Regions from separate parts of the Homo sapiens genome. Here region 1 is linked to region 2. The links come from fine-mapping of genetic effects on gene expression. A gene starts in region 2. The other region holds a variant in brackets. All regions are shown on one strand. Distances are from middle to middle.

The links. PIP is the estimated chance that this variant, and not a neighbour inherited with it, causes the effect. A credible set is the group of variants that fine-mapping cannot tell apart.
Region 1: its variant is the best candidate, but not a certain one, in a credible set for the expression of KLHL29 in pancreas (GTEx, PIP 0.51).

What each region holds. Positions count from the first base shown.
Region 1 is chr2:23,494,929-23,503,255 of GRCh38, forward strand. The region is part of intron 2 of KLHL29 (kelch like family member 29); the gene reads left to right. It overlaps LOC105374325 (a long non-coding RNA gene), which reads right to left. Exons shown (of 2, transcript XR_939831.2): 2 at 6,997-8,327. Among named protein-coding and RNA genes, the nearest start is that of LINC02923, 110 kb to the left of the region's middle. RefSeq lists an enhancer at 2,344-3,027. The variant A/G (reference allele first, on the strand shown) is at 4,743.
Region 2 is chr2:23,380,623-23,388,949 of GRCh38, forward strand. KLHL29 (kelch like family member 29) reads left to right here and starts at 4,557. Exons shown (of 14, transcript NM_052920.2): 1 at 4,557-5,158. LINC02923 (long intergenic non-protein coding RNA 2923) reads right to left here and starts at 6,696. Exons shown (of 6, transcript NR_187213.1): 1 at 599-6,696. RefSeq lists enhancers at 1-172, 2,496-2,790 and silencers at 2,496-2,790, 4,294-4,643, 4,814-5,673, 5,914-6,033, 6,054-6,223 and 1 more.

The sequences.
Region 1 (8,327 bases), 110 kb after region 2:
TTTCGTCGCCGTAAGCCAATCTCTCCTTCCCACTCACCCAGCCCCAAGCACCTGGGCCTTCAGTGCTGCCTCAGTGCCTCTGTTGGAAGGAAATCTCTTTTATTTTATTTATTTCTGTGAGTATTTTATTTATTTTTTGGAGACGGAGTCTTGAACTCCTGGCCTCAAGCAATTTTCTCGAACTCCTGGCCTCAAGCAATTTTCACATCTCAGTCTCCCAGAGTGCTGGGATCACAGGCGTGCATCACTGTACCTGGCTGGAAACCCCATTTTTAAGGGAAATGGTAAAAGATGTGAGGGCCTGCAGGAGGTGGTCCCTGTAGTGACGTTCTAGGAGGTGCCTCTGTGGGCTGTCAGGCAGGTGGCAGGGAAGTCAATGGAGCCCCCCAATCCTGGTGCCCATGCCATGCTTTTTGGTGAGGTGGGTCCAGGTCATTGCCCCTACCTGGCTCTGGGACACATGATAATTTTGCAGCAGAGGTGTTGAGGTTGTGTCTTCTGATGTTTGGCTGGACATTCCCATTTGTTTTCATGAATGTCTGAAATGTCATCTCACTTAAACCAGTACAATACTCTTTATCTTCTGCCCTGGGTGGCAGTGGGTATAACAGTCAACCCTGCCATGTCCCCTGGGACTCGGGACATTCTCCCAGCCCCCATTGGTCCCAGCTTCTCTCCAGGACATCACAGAGGAGCTTTGGGGTCAAGCCTGCACCGTACCCACCTCCACTGTACCCACAGCTCCAGCGAGAGTGACGGCCCCTCCTGGCATCGTGTCAGGGCCAGGGCTCCGGGGGTTGACACCCCAGAACAGGCTCCGGCTCATGGCTGTGGACGCCTACCTTGTTGGCACTGGGAGAGTCTAATCCCGCCACGACTGTAGCACGCGCATGTGTTTGAAAACCTCCTTGGCAGGCAGGACCTCCTAATTTTTTCCACTTCTTGTGATTAGCGTTGCAGACTAATCCTAGCACCAGACTCAACACCAGCTGTTCTTCCCCCACTGCTTGTTTTTACTTACGAACCAAATCCTGGAGTTGCTGCCGAATTGGCCAGCGCCGCTCTGCTCCTCCCTCAGCCCGAGCTGCAGCCAGTCACCTATGGCATGACCTCAGATGAACTGTCTTTTCAACATGGCCACCCGTGTGTCCTTCACAGTGCCCGGACGGCACTGCTCAGTCTCAGGGGGCACGAGAGGGGCTCACTGGGTTCCAAAGAGGACTCCGGCTTACCCGCTGCAGCAGTGGGATATCAGCTGTTCCTGGAGCCAAACTGATCTTAGAAATTTGGTTTTGCATCCTTAGACACGAGACAGCCCTGGATACCACTTATAATTTTTTATGTAATATGGTATTTTCAGAATAAGATATGTAACATTTAGATAAGTTGTATGACAACAATGAAATGAACACACATGATCCATCCCACCTCTGAACTTAAGAGCTGAAACATCACCAGACTATTGAAACTGCCTGTTTTCCTGCTCCATTCATTCCAGGTCCTCTTAAATTTGGAAAGGGGTATGCAGAAAGAGCACAGCCCTGGTACCTCCTCCCTCTCCCCCATCCTGCTCCCACCGGAAAGATATGTTTTCCCCCAAAAAGGGTACCCCGCCAGTGTGCAGCAGCAGCACCCCCTCTAACCTTCAGCGGGGCCAGCGGTGGAGGGAGGGGAGGCAGTGCAGCCTGGGCAGGAAGCAAGGCCTCAGTGGCCTCCAGATTTGCAAGAGGGGCCAGAGCTGCCCTAGGGGGCCCAGGGACCACCGCTGTCTCTGCTTTGGAAATTTCTCTGGCATGCTTCCTCTTCCCCTGACTTCTGTGGCAATGCTTGGGGGAAAGTTATTTACTGAATGCAGACCCAGGGACTCAGACTTCTGCATCCATACATACCATCCATTTGCATTTCTGTGAGAGTCTCTCACATACCTGGAAGGCCCTAAAAACAAATCAGGGAGTGTGGCATATGGGACATTTGCCCTCCAAACACTGCAGCGTCAAGAAGAATTGCAATTGTCAGAAATATCATATTCCTGTCAAAAGCGCATGAAATCAATTCTGTAAATTGAGAAACATAAGTCACAGTTATATTTGTTCTGCAACCATATAAGAATCACGAGTTTCTCCTAGGGTAGGAAAAAAAAAAAAAACTATGAGCCCTTTAGAATGACTTAATGTCCAATCATAGCCACCTTTACCAGGCAGTGCTGTTTCTGTTGGCATGAGATTTCTGACTGCCTTCAGTCGGTGGGTATTTCCGCTGGGTTGGTTGCTTTCTTGGCAACTGCGATTACTTGAAAACGGGATGAAAGTAAGTGACTCCTTTTTTGTTTTCCTCCTTGGCAATCTCTCTGTGGTTTTGTGGCTGCCCATGTGGTTCTCTTTCCTTCCTCTGTCCCTCCATGACTAGAGCACCACAGCAGGGAGCCGAGGGTTTCCTGGGGTTGGGCAGTCACTCAGCCCCTCCCTCTAGCAGTGCACGTGCTCTGGAGTTCCACATACCTGGACCCTGTTACCCCGTTTTAGTTGCACAGGACTGCTGGGGGAGACGGTGCAATAATCATTTGGTCAAGATGAGCCAAGCCTCCTTTGGGCCGAGCACGGAGATCACAGAAATGGACTCCAACTCACCTCCACCCAGAGAGGCAGGGCCAAGCCTAAAAGTTTTGTAGGGATTTAGGGAAGGGAGGGAGCAAAGGGCTGGGAGAGCCAGGGAAGGTTCATTAGCCCAGGAGCATCTTTCCCTGCCTCCTAAAGGAATATAGCCTTAAGCTCTTTGGAGGAGAGGGGAATATTCCAGCTGGGCCAAGAGAGAGGGTGGCCTGAGGCTGGTGCGTGCATGTGACCTGAGGGGCACTGAGCTGTGAGCTGGAGGTGTCGAGTGGGCCTCAGCACTGAAGTCAGGGGAAACCAACCGTATGGATGCCGTTCTGAAAGACAGCCTGTATTACAGGAGCACCGGGTAGAAAGTATTCAAGGAGACAGAGATCTGTCTGGAACTACGGGAAGGGCTGACTCAAGATTTCTGGCCAGAATCCTAGGATTTTTCTTTTTTAATTTAAGGTGTGCAGCACAATGTTTTGATAAACTTATAGATAGTGAAATGGTTATTATAGTTAAGTGACTTAACATATCCATCATCTCACCTAGTTACCCTTTTCTGTGTGTGAAAAAAGCACCAAAATCTACTCTTAGCAAACTTCCAGCATACAATATAATATTATCCTATACACTGACAGTGAACACCATCCTATTCATATATTGGGCAGGGTAGGTTTGTTTGTTTTGGATGTAGAACTCATCACCAGGAAAGCAGGCAAGAATTCCCCGAAAATCAAGAAGTCTGAGATATGAGCAGCAGTAAATCTGTTTTCTCTGAAGTGCCAGTGTAGACTCCATTCTGCTGTCTCTACCTTGGCCTCCATACCGAGTGGGCTGGAGGCTGCGGCACCAGTGAGGTGCCCTGACATCCAGCTGGCTGTGACAAATCAGAACAAACACCCGATCAGGCAGGAGACTACTACCTGGGGGCCTCGCCCTGCCCTCCCTGCCAAGCAGGGAGCTCCAGGCCTTTGGGGCCAAAGGAAGCCCCTCTGCTGAGGCTCAGGAAGGTTTTCGGGGTTGGGGAGCAGACTGGAAGAACTTAGTCCTGCCCTGACCAACACCCAGCTTTCTCAGCGCCTTCGTTAGGACATTTAGGAAGGTCGGGGCTTCCTTCCACACTGAGAATTCTGCAGTAATGCAGATGTCCTATACTGTGCTGGCAAGTGCTGTTGAACACTTAGAATGTGGCACGTGTGACTGGGGAACTGAATTGTGAATTCTATTTAAGCTAAATTAATGTTAATTGAAATAGTCACATTGACGAGTAGCTACCATATTGGACAGTGTAACCTTAGAAGATTCAAGGCAGAACCTGGGTGAGGCCGCCCCTATGCCTCCCAAGACTGGGCGACCTGTCACTGTGTCTCTTTCCATTGCTGAAAGTGACAGAGCCTACGGAGCTCTCAGAGAGAAATTATCCTGAAAATCAGACCGAATGGCTGAACGCTTACAGATGTCCCTGCGACCGATCACGTTTCCTTTCGTGGCCATAAGAATTGTATTAAATATTAGGCATAGGAGGAATCTTACCAGGTTTTCCCTAAAGCCCTTTTCTCTCTTGCTGCATGAAGTTTCCTCTCCTGCAGCTGCCTGAGGAAATGGTTTCGCAAGACTTTATTATTTTTGGATTTTTTGGCATACTCACTGAAGCCAGGCCTGGGTACTCAGTTTCCATTTGATTTCTGGCTGCTCAGGGCTCACTCCTCCTGCCCATGCTGGTGGGATTTCTTGTAGGCCAGACAGTGGAATGGTTTAGAGCAGCCCTACCTCTCCCTTCTTTGGGGTGACTGGAGAGGAAATTGAGGGGCCAGCTACCACTGCTTACAGGAAATGGACAGATTAGGGCAACTGGATCAACATTGCATTGAAAATACCTGGCTTCTGTGGGTGTGAGGCAGGACTACCTGAATAGATACTTATGTTCTTGCTCCAGAGCTGTCAGACTCAAGCAGTGGCTGGGCTTTAGGTGACTTGGTGACGTTCCCTGGCTCTAGGGTAGCTATGGAGTAATCGGAATCACCGTCTGATTTCAGCAATTGCACTTCTCAGAGTTGGGCAATGAGGCTAAGGAGAAAAGGGATGGCTGGAACAAGTTTGAGGCGGGAAGAGGAGAAAGGTCTTCAGCCCCTTGGGCACACAGAG[A/G]CAGCACTGTCGGCCCCCACCCAGAGAAAGTAAAGCATGACTTGGAGATCCAGAGTCTGCCAGACCCCAGGGCAGTCTCTCAGGAGATGAGGGAGGAGTGGGGCGGAACAGCGCAGCTGCTGTGTTTATGACACATCTTCCTCCATGGACTGCTTAGGACGCTTCAACCTTAATATTTGAGGCGCATTCTCTAGAAATAGTCTTTGTCCACTGGCTGAGATGGGTGGGAACAGAGGAGTAGGAGGTGTTGGCTTTTTTTAGGATAGAAGGTTATTGGTTTATTTAAGTGCATTTGCTTTGGTTTTAGCGTTGTGAGGATAATTAATTTACGTATGACCCTCCTTAGACCTGTAAATATGTATTGGTACCAACTGTACAGCAGGCCCTGTGCTGTCCGCCAGCAAGATAACAGTGAATGAAAACATCTCTGCTCTAAAGTAGATATTCTCCCCAGCCCTTCCCAGCATGGTCTGGAAGGGAACAGCAGGATATTCAGACAGTGCCTTAGCAAGGAAGGACACAGTGGTGCGTTCGTGTCAAACACTGGTGTGCAGAAGGTAGGGAGTCCAGGAGGGCTTCATGGAAGAGGGAGACTTGACTGCGCCTTGAGATGTCTGGAAGGAGTACAGAGGGCTCTTCAGGAGTCAGAACAAACAGATAAGTGATCGGAAGCCGTGGAGAAAGTTTAATTGTTAGAATTTCCATTTATTTTGGTGTGTATGTGCTATGTTTAAACCTTAGGAATTTGCATACCACTTGGTATCATTTTATTAGATCCTAGTTTTGTAGGTCTAGAAGTCAAGACCAATGTTAGGAAAACTGCCCTTGATATGTAGAGACACCCACCTGGCCATCTCCTGTCTTCCCCAGCAGAAGGATGGAGAAACAGACAAGCTCCTGATAGCAGTGACATGATGCATATGTGATGGGCAACCAACTGTGACTCTGAAGCCACTTTAAACACTGTTTCTCTGATTTAAAAACCTGTTTGGAGCTTTGGAAGTTGATTTTTAGGTTTATAAAAAAACTGGACTATTTTGAGTTTGGAAACATAATTTACTATTTCCAAGAAAAGAGTTTTAAAAACCGATTACTTTCCCTAACTCCTCATCCCCTTGCGACAATTTATAAAAGAGAAATCAGGATTTCAAATCCTGCACGTGGAGTGAGTAGCTTTTTTGAGTTCAGTTCACGAGGTTGCACTTTGACATGCTTTTTAAGATTTGAATATTTTTATAAATCATGATTATGCTACTGTTTAATGAGAACAAAAGTGGAAATCGCATCTGTTTGTCTGCGGCGGAGCATCTCCCGGCCTGTGTGTGCTGTCTGGGAAAGTGGTGGCCCAGTCTGGAGAGCTGACGAGCAGCTTGATTAGCTGAAATTACTTCCTGCAGTAGTTTGAGGGTGTCAGTCCTGGGATGAACTGGGTCATCTCAGGGATCTGGGACACGGGAGCCACTCTGAGACTCAGGGTGGCTGATGGCCCGGACTCCAATCAGAAATCCCCAACTCTTCCCCGCGTGAACACGTCGGGCAGATTCCCTTCCAGCCCAGGTTGGGATCTCAGGGTCTGTTCCTTGCTAGACCGGGTCCAATTGGTATCAGCCCCCTATTCCTGCTTTGGAATAGGGGGCTGATACAAATTGGATTGAACCTAATTGAGATGCCCTGTAGTGTCAGCTGGTCCCGGGGAAAGAGGCTATACAGGTGCAGGCACGTTCCCTGAGGGTGGGAGATAGCCGCGGCCGAGAGACAGCAGTGGAAATAGACCTATAGCATGGGCATCGAGGACAGGACTTTGGAGTCAAAATGCTTAATTCCATTATCACTCAGCCCGATCATCGATGTTCAGGTTGAAGAGCCTGTGTCAGCAAAAGAGTTGAAGTAATTTGGAGTTCTTTGTTCACTCAGCTTTAGAACGCTGCTGTTTTTTCGTTTTCCTTCAAACTAGTAAAACTAAAAACGTTTCTGATTTTTAACTGTTACTGTTTTTATCTGGAAAACTCATTAATCTAGATTTTGTTACCACTGACAGCCTATAGGTCCCCTCTAAATATTGTTTTTAATGTAACTTCTCTACAACGAAATGCCTGGATCTTTGGCATGCGGTTCAATCAGTTTTGCACTGACAAATGCAGACATCTGTGTAACCCACATTCCTATCAAGTAAAAGAGCATTCCCATCAGCCCAGAAAGCCCCCTCGTGCCCCTTCCCAGGCATCCCCCTGCCTCCAGAAGCAGCCACTGATGGTTTGTTTTTAACATGCATCTTAATTTAATTTTAATTTTAAAACATCACCTGCATTTTCAAACCAAAGAAAAAAGACTCCTTCCTCCAAGAAAGGTCTCCTGCTGGCTCCTGGGCCCATCGGGTGCTGTTGCTGTGTAGCCAGGCCGGGTGCACATTCTTCACAGGTTGTAGTGCTCCTGGCTCAGACCGGGAGGTTTTCTGAAGTCTAGTCAGCTACACAACTCTACACCTGGAATGTCAGACATTCGCAATGCCTCCAGAACAATGGATGGCAAAAAAATTCATTCTGTGCTTTTTCCGGGATCGCTTGCATGCAATTGTGCCCGCCGAGCAGGAGGACTCCAGATTAGAGGGAGAGAGAGCGAGAGAGAGGCCTACTCATCGGTCTGCATAATCAGCATCGAACATATTTCTGCCCCAACAAAGAGAACAGTGTGTTCCTGAGACGCTGCCGTGCAGCTCGGAGGCTCACTAGTGGGCGGTTCTCCCGGGAGGGAGTCGGGTGTTTCAGCAGCTCTCCCCACACCTACCACCCACCTTTTGGGGGGCCCCAGATTTTCTGGCCCCTAAGGGGGAGGACACTTGCACAGGGCCTGGCAGAGGGCAGAGACGGCTCTGGCCCCTGTGCCCCTTCATCCTCTGACCCGCATGAAATAAAACTCCTGCAAATCTACCTATATGACCAATTCATCCCCCTCGTGTTTGGCCCTTCCAGCACCTGTCACTAGGCGCAGGCGGTCAGCAGGGATTCAAACCACCACTGGGCCACTTTGCTGATCTCTTTAGATGCAGTGTGTGTCTTATTCCCATGATGCTGGTGGCCACTCCACATTCTTATGGGGGACCTGTGGGGTTCCCAACCGCACCCTGCATCTGTCTCTCCAAGCACCACGGACACTTCCAGATAGAAGAAGCCAGGCTGCAGTGTGGTCCAAGCCCCTTCTAGGTCTCTCCCTTTTCAGCCCTCTCTAGCTGGCTCCACTGGCTTGGTTACTAAAATTCTAGCAGGACTCAGGTCTGTTGGGGATGGCCAAGCTTGAAATATTTCTTTTTTCTTTTTCTTTTTTTTGGCCTGTCTTACCTACAGTTGTATTTTCCTCTTTAATCATAAGGATTTACATCAGGAAAAATAACCTGAGAATAGATGTGTTTTGTTTGAATGTCGTAGTTGTGCCCTTTGTAAAATTACCCCAGGGCATGATAAGAAAAGGAGTAAGCAATTAAAATGCACAGGGCTACGGCAAGGGCAGGCAGATCTGAGTGGAGGCTGCTGTCCTGTGAAGTAGACCTGGCAGGGGATGGCTGCTCCGGGCTGGCCTGGGCCTCGCTCT
Region 2 (8,327 bases):
TGTCTAATTAGCACTCCTGCCACCTGCAAACAAGTGGTACTAAAAAAAGGTGCTGAATTCTTGCCATTGAGAATGCCAAAAAAAGACACCACTGGTTTCATTCTGACTCTTAGAATCTAATATTTCACTGATTTGGCGGGCTGGGGGTGGTGGGAGGAGGGGGGAAGGAAATACACTTTCACTTTCACCCAAAGGAAATGACTTAACAACAAGTCGTGTTTTAGAAACGATCATATGGTAATGAGTCCTCCAATCCAGCAATCCTCCCTCCCCTGACCTCCTGGCCCCTGCCTTCCCCTCTGCCTGGTCTAGGCTCCCTCTGCCTCCCACAGAAACTGCCTTGTCAGGTCCAGTCTTAGACCTTCCTCCTCCAGGAAGGCATCCTGACCAGCCTAGCTCTTAGGGAATCGTCCCCTTAACCCCACAACACTTGAGAGTCTCTTCCCCACAGGTGAGCACGAAGTTATATTTCTTGATAACAACTGCTGTTATCTTAACCCTTGTCAAGAACAAGAGCCAAGTATTGTATTAGGAAACCTCGATCACTTTTTGGAAAATAGGCAGGGTAAAAATGATTGGCGTATAAGCCGCCTTATACCTTCCCTGTCTTCCTGAGAGTCGCCAGCACAGAGTTGAGCAACAAAGCAGGTTCTCAGTAAATGGTTGATTGCATGATTGGCAAATGCCTTTGTGACACATCACAGAGCACGGTGGCCATGGTGAAAATTTGGCAGCTGTGACTCCTTACTTCCTGCTTTAATCAACGTCATGGGATTGAAATGCTGGACACACAGTAGGTGCTAAATAGATTTTTATGGATTGATTAACCACTGGAGGGACTGTGCCTTATGTGGGATTTATTAATGCTTTTGATGCCAAATAGGGGTGGTTTTAATAGAGTATAATGTGTTTAAAAAAAAAAAAAAAGAAAAACCAGCAAACACAAAACCCCAACCAGGACAGAGGCTGGCAGCTGCTCTGTTTACACCCACCGTGCTCCTGGAAACAGATGTCCTGTCAAACCCGAAGGTTTCTGATGAGGCTTCCACTCTTCCGAGTGACCTGAGTGTTCAGTAATCAAAGGGACCTGTGCCCTTCTACATTAGTGCTCTCTGTTCTATGACTGATCTCCAGTTATGTGTCTGGGGTAAAGACTTTTGCTGATGAAGGCAAAAATCAGCATCTACTGTATCTACTCCAAGGGAAAAGCACTGGGCTAATGACAAAAGAAACTGCATTTGTGTGTTTGGTGGGGTAAAAAGAACAGAGGCTTTGGGACAATCAGGCTGAAATTCCAGCACTGTCACTTACTGTGTGATTGCAGGTTCTCATCTACCCTCTCTGGAACTCAGTTTTGGGGGCTGATAACACCAATTCCACAGGTTGCTGTGAGGATTAACAAGATATCATGGGTAGAGTTCTTGGTACAGTGCCTGACATATAGTAGCCACTGGGTAAAGGTCCTTTTGTTGTGGCTATTATCATAAACACAGACAAGGACAGAAGTCCACCTTGGCCACTGTGGGTTTATGTGGCACCCCAGGTGTTCCTGATGTGACTTCCTCTGGTTCCTCCTTGGGTGATGGTGGCCTTTCCAGTACAAGTCCTTGTCTGATTGACTGCACAGATAATGGTCTATGATCTGAGCGGGGAATGGATGTCCTGGAGTGTTCCAGTCCACTTCCCTATGCACTATGAGTCCGCTCCTTCACTACCCATCTGCTTGGAGTGTACACATTAGTCCTGATCCCAGTGCCCAGATTGGGGCTCAGGACAGGGAGGGTTGGCTTTTGGAGAACACACCACCAAGTCAATCCTGTGTTTCATGGAGAAATCTTTGACCATGGTGTAAGAGGTTTCTGGGCACAACACACGAGTCCCATGAACCACACAGAGAGATCCATGCCAGTCATGGGGCCCATCCCATGGGCCACAGAGTAGAGCAAAGAATGACCCAAAAAAGATCCCAGACACCAGCAAGATCTACGTAGAGAGAGAGAGAGAGGAGACCCCTGACACAATGCAAATCCAGTTTATGTTGCCAAGACACTAGATGCGCTGGGACAGATCATGTGAACAACAGCACTCTGAAATGGAACTCATATGCAGACCAGCGCAGACCCTTCATAAATGGCTGTGTCCACACTAAACAGCTCCCAGCAGGGCAGAGCATCAATGACGAGGAAGCCTTGGATAAAACGAGGATGGGTGAGGACAGGGTAGACAAGCCCACTGGGAGTCTAATTCACACAGCTTTTCTCATTCTCCCTGACAAGCTGGCTCCCCTGGTGAGCTGTTACCAAACTTCAGCCCTGAAGAGTTTGCGGTGCCCCAGAACCAGCGCCCTTCGCACCACCATGGCCCGAGTAGGTCCTCCTCTGGATAAGACCTCAGCACAGCTCTCTTTTCTGATGCTGCCAGCAGGGAAATTGGGAGCATCCTTTCTCCTTCATCTGGAGAGGTAGCTGAATAAGGATTCTTGGAGTTCCTATTTTCTTCTTTCAACTGAGGATCATTCAAAATCATCTGTAAGACACTGTGAGTGCCTCACATTGCCAGATCTTAACCTATCCCAGACCCTGCAAACCTTGGCCACATTTCTGTAGTGCCTACAGCTGTCACATAGGGCGCTACTCCAGAATACGGCTGGGTGGACTTCTGCATGTTCACAGTCAGTGCATCCATGGAGATTATCTCAGAGGACAGCTTCCTACAGCGTGGATGAACAGACACACGCCTGTGGCTTTGTTCTCCTTCTTTTTGCATTGGGTTGACCTGTGTATCAATTTGAAATCCCAAGAAATCCCTCTTTTTTCCATTTTGCTATCTAGTACTCTTCTATCACTTTTCATATACCATTTGAAGGACATAGTACTCAAACCAAAGCTATCGATCACCTTCAGGTGTTGTCTGAGGACCCTTGGGGAGCTTTTCTCCCCCTCCCCCCCACTCCTGCTCCCCTTTTCGGCACCTCTGTCACCCTCTCTTAAGGTCACGCCAGTTTTCCTGGCTGTCGTCCTCATGAAGGGTGGCTTCCTCCCTGAAGTGCTCCGCTCTGTCCCCTCCCTTGAGTCCCGGGCTTCACACACACAAACTCTGTTGGATGTTTTTTCCAGGAAATGCAGTTATTCTGACACTAGTGGGCCATTTCCCCGGCGTCCTCATTCCATTTCTGACAGTGCTCCTGCTACCCTCAGTAGATTATTATTATTTATTATTTATCAGCCACGACACTGTACTCTGCTTCCTACAAAATATTAAAGAAGACACAATCCGTGCGCTGAGTTTACAGCCAAGGAGAGCAGAGGCCTGGATCAGACATCACAGGGGGGGAGCTGAGAAGAAAATATTTACCGGCTCAGTCCTCCTTGGCCCTGGTAGATGGAGGCAAGGACTGGCAAAGCCCTCCCCAGGCCAGCTCCTCCCAGCTGGGCCCCCACAGCCAGCTCCCCACACTACCTACAGCACCCCAACTCCAATTTCTAGCAAGGCCTCAGGCCTCAGGCCTTTACCCGGGGGAGCGGAGGGAGGGTGGAGGATGAGGATTGGGCCCTCAGGCCTTTACATTCAGACAGGGGTGGAGGAGGAGGGCAGGTACAGATATTTCCTCTGAAACTCAAAACCAGGTAAAGGGGATGTAGGGGAGGAGGGAGAGGTCGGGGAATAAAAACCAGATTAGGAGAGCGGTCGGGGTGGAGAAGACTGTGCCCAGAGTGAAATATTCTAGCATAATGGAAAAGCCCTCATTGGGGGTCCCACACGCCTCTGGCCAAATCTCTTCTATTAGGGTTAGAAGTTAGGGTCTGTGTAGACAGCATGTGTAGACCGAGAGGTGGTGGGACTGAGAAGTCAGTGTAGACAGTGTGAGAGAGAGCGAGCTGTGGTGGGGGTGAGTAGTCGGTATAGACATCAAAGGCTGGTCAGGCTGTTAAACAGAGAAGGCTTCCTGGATTCCTAAGGGTCAGTATGAACAGAAAAGTCGCGCGCCCCAGGAGAGGCAGGGCTGACTCAGAAGGCTGGTGGACACTTTGCAGGGCTCTCCCTGGTCCTTCAGAGGTGTGGACAATTCCTGCTCCTTTCCAAGGCTGGAGTGTCATAAAGAGGGCGGAAGCTGAAAGACGATTGGACTTTTTCCTTCTCAAACTTTTCCGCCAGTTTCCTCAGGTGTTGAGAGCAGACGGGGAGCTCGCCTCAGTCCCGGGCCCCCAACCCTGGGCCAGCAAGGCCAGGAGGCCACGGCGGAGCAGCCCGTGCCACGCGCCGTGCGTCTGCCGGGCGCGGCCGCGGAGCCAGGCGAGCCGGGGGCCACCGCGGGGGGCGGGGGCGGCGGACGGACGGACCGACGGACACACCCGCGAGCACTCCAACCTCGGACCCGGCGCGCGGCAGCCGGGAATCCCTCGGGCCGGGGAAACTGCGCACGGGGCCCGGCCTGGCCGGGCCGGGCCAGAGGGCCCCGCCTCCCCCACCCGCCACCCCCGCCCACTCGGGCGCCCGTGATTGGCTCCGCCCGCCCCTGGCTGCGCGCCGAAGCCCGCCTCCCTCGCAGCTAAAGCAGACGGTACCCGGAGCGGAGCGAGCCAGAAGGGAGCATGGTCCCCGCGCCGCGGCCGCGCCAGCCCCCGCGCCGCCGCCGCCGTCCCCGCCACCGCGGATCTCGCCGCAGCTCCAGCCCCGGCCCCGGCTCCGCAGCGCCCGTCCGCAGCCCCGGCGGTCGCCGCGCTTGAGCGCAGCCCCCGCCCGGAGCCCGAGCCGCGAGCCCGGAGCCAGCCCCAGCCCCGCGGCCGCCGCGGCTGCGGGGAGAGGGCGGGGGCGATGCTGCCGGAGCCGCCGCCGCCGCCGCCGCCTCGATGAGAGCCGCGCCGCACCGCTCATAGCCGCACAGGCTGACAGGCAGGAGGACCGACTTCCCTCTCCCGGGCATCCTCCCTGGGCTGCCGGGAGGCGGCGGCGGCGGAGGAGGAGGAGGAACGAGGGGAGAAGGCGGAGAGCAGGAACGCGAGGAGGAGGACCTGGATCCGTTTCCTCCGGCCAGGACCCGAGCGGCCCCAGCCACCGCTACCCGCCGGCGCTGTCCGCTCTCCATCAGCCCTCCTGCGCCCACCCGCGACCCCGGGCTCTCTGCGCGTCGGGCCGGGGCCGGAGCCGCGCGCCGGAGGTAAGAGCCGGGCCGGGCTGGAGCGCCTCGGATGCGGCGCCGGAGGGAGACCCAGGTCCTGGCCGCCGCGTGGGGCCGGGCCGGGCCGGGCGTGGGAGCGGGGCCGGAACCCGGAACCCTGGGCTCGGCTTCGGCGGCGGCGGCGGCGACAGGAGCCTCCCGCGTCTGGACTCGCAGGCTGCAGGAGCCCTTGCGCCTGCGCTGCTCCAGGGGGAAAAAAAGGGGGGGAAAAAACTTCCTGCCCCCGGGTGTGTATGCACCGGGGCTGCCTGGGGCCACTGTCACGGTGTTCGGAGGTGCTGGAGGCTTGTGTGACCCCTGGCCGGAGCAGCCCCCCTGCTGGGCCCGGCGGCGCGCGCCCCTCTCCAGGCCACGTTCCCCTGAGCGGCCCAGGGCCCCGGCCGGGCAGGAGACCTGGAGGCGACGGAGGGCTGGCCCCCAGGGGCGGCCGCGCGCACTGTCCTTTGGGGAGGTGCGCGCCTCTGTGCAGCGAGAAGCCAGGTTGGGGTTTTCTGCCCCTCGCGTCCTCTGATCTCGCATTTGGGGACTGGGTCTCTTTACTCAATCCCAAGTAACTTTCGAGGTAGATGAGCTCGAAAACCGTCGGGAGGGAACCCGCACAGACCTTATTGTGACCCACCCCACCCCGACACACACACGCACACTTCCCTTGACACCTTGTGGGTGCCAGCGTGTTGTGGGGGGACGCGGAAAGGAGAGCTCACGGGGACGGCGAAGCGGCCAGGAGGTGGTGTCGTTGGGGAGGGGTTGTTGATGTGTGGGACAGGGTGGACCTGGAGATGTGTAGTGTGGGAGTGTGAACGCGCGCCCCGATGGCCTCGGGGGGCCGGGGGAGCCCAGGGCTCGCGTCCCGGTCTCCGTGGCCTGGAGCGGGCTGAGAGCGCTAGGGTTATCTGCGGTCGCCGCGCGGGTGCCCGCGCTGGGCAGCGTCGGCCCCGGGCCCCAAGGGAGGGACGTGCTCGCCTGGGGCCGGAGCGCGGGGCTGGGAGCCGGGGTAGGTCGGAGGTGGCTCTTAGGGCAGGTCGCCTCTGCGTTGCCTGGGGAAGGCGGGGACGCGCTGCCTGCCTGCGGCCAGCCGTCTCGGAGGAGGGGGTGGCGGCCACGCGCGAGTCTCGGATGCCTGGGTCCACCCGCTGAGAAGCCAGTTGTCGTCCCTGGGCTGTGGAACCAAGCGGCAGACGCGGTCCGTTGGCGGGCCCTCGCGCGGGCCCCCAGAGATGCTGATGGGTAAGGAGCTGCCGCCGCCGCCGCTGCCATCCCCGCCGCTCTGCAAACGTTCTCCTCCCTCCCTCCCGTGCTTGCGCCGCGGCGCGCCCCGGGCGAATCGTGGACGCAGGTATTTATGTAGCATTAGGCGAGACCTCGGCGCTGGAGGGACCAGACCGTGGAGGACGCCGAGCTGCTGCTGCCTGCGAAACTTCCACTTCGGCAGCTCAGCGGCATCCCGGCCCGCTGCTGCAGGTTCCAGCCTCTCTCCAGTCCAGCAACGCTGGGATTCGGACTCCTCTTGCAATGACAGATCTGTCCTGGTTACGGCTGTATTTATACTAGTTTCAGTCTCTTTAAAGTCATCTGTCTAGTCACTACAGAGTTTCTTCCTCGCCGTGTGGTCTTATCACTAACTCAGCCCTGGGAGGGCAGATTTGAGGAATTGCTTCATTTTCAGATGAATGACAGCAGACTTGTCCCACCTCATTCCTGATTTATTATTATTATTATTATTATTATTATTATTATTATTATTATGGAAAGAAGGTATAGAGCTTTTTAATTTTTTTGTGAGGGAGGAGAATGAACAATTTTATAGATTGTTCTTTCCGACACTTAGAGAAAACATGTCCAGTAAGCACTAGTGAATACTTTAAAGGCTGGTTGGCATGCGTGTATTTGATTAGTCCATAATCTAGGTGTTTATACAGGTATGGAGCTGTGTGCTACTGATGAATAGTCTCCGTCCCATACATTGTGCTGGAGTGCACTTGATTTATCACCCTGCTATAAATCAGGGAATTACTAGCACATGTGCCTTTTAAACTCTATATGAATTTAATGGCATTTAAATTGGTTTATGGGCTGATGCATCTAACCAATTTTAATAACTTTTCTGCACAAACATCTTATAAACCATATTTGCCTGTGATTAAGAAAAACATTTTCTTCTCCTCGGTCTCTCGGTTATGGAAATTTATAGGTCTCCAACTTTCATTTGCAAGCAGCAATCCAAACGAAATACCTAGAGTTTTACTGAAATAAAATATCCTATGGTAGCCATGGTAACAAATAGATTAAGGGTTATTGGTTTTCATCTGAATGTGATGGGGGGTGGGGATCTAGTGTTGTGTCTTTTTAATTATGTTTCTAATGAGTGGTGGTCATACTTCAAGTACTCAGTGTGGGAGACAAGCAAGACTGAGAATTCAGGTTTGTGGGAGGTTTATTGAAACAAAGACTAGTAGAGCCCAGGAGAATGACTTTTGCTAACTGCAGCTCCTCATATCTAGGAACAAAATGGATAAAAACCTTTTTTTTGTTTTTCCAGTAGATGAGCATTGAGTCAGTCACTTTAAGACCGGAAAATGCATTTTGCTTATAAACTATTACCAAAGGAACCTCTAAATCCAGCCTGTTTTCTAGGAATAAACATGTTGGAAGTGTGGCGGTTGGTGTGGATTGAGTGTCACCGTTGTTATCAACACCTGTCAGTTTAAGTGAGGCACATCATTAGTCTATTCAAATCTTGCCTATTTCAGTATTCATGCATTTCCATGGTGATCCATTCATTTTTATTTAGTCAACCTTATAAATCTTTGGCATCAATTTTAGTTGTGCCATCTTTTTCCTTCTTTTATCAATTGATTTGGCTACAAACCATTCCTAGTTTAAAGTATCTCCTTCTTTTTTCCTGCTAGTTTCTAAAAGCCTACACTATTCCCAGCTACATACAGATATAAAGGAGTTAATTTTTTTTCATCAACTCAAATGGCACCCCTAATACTAATGTCATTTTTTGGCATCTCATTTGATATGTATGTGTACATGGGTTTTTTTTTTCTTTCTTTCAGCAGGCTTACTGTAAAGCTTTCTCACTTTTTGGCTGGGAGACATCAATTCAGTCCAGCAGAACTAACTAAAGTTTTTCCTTCCTTCC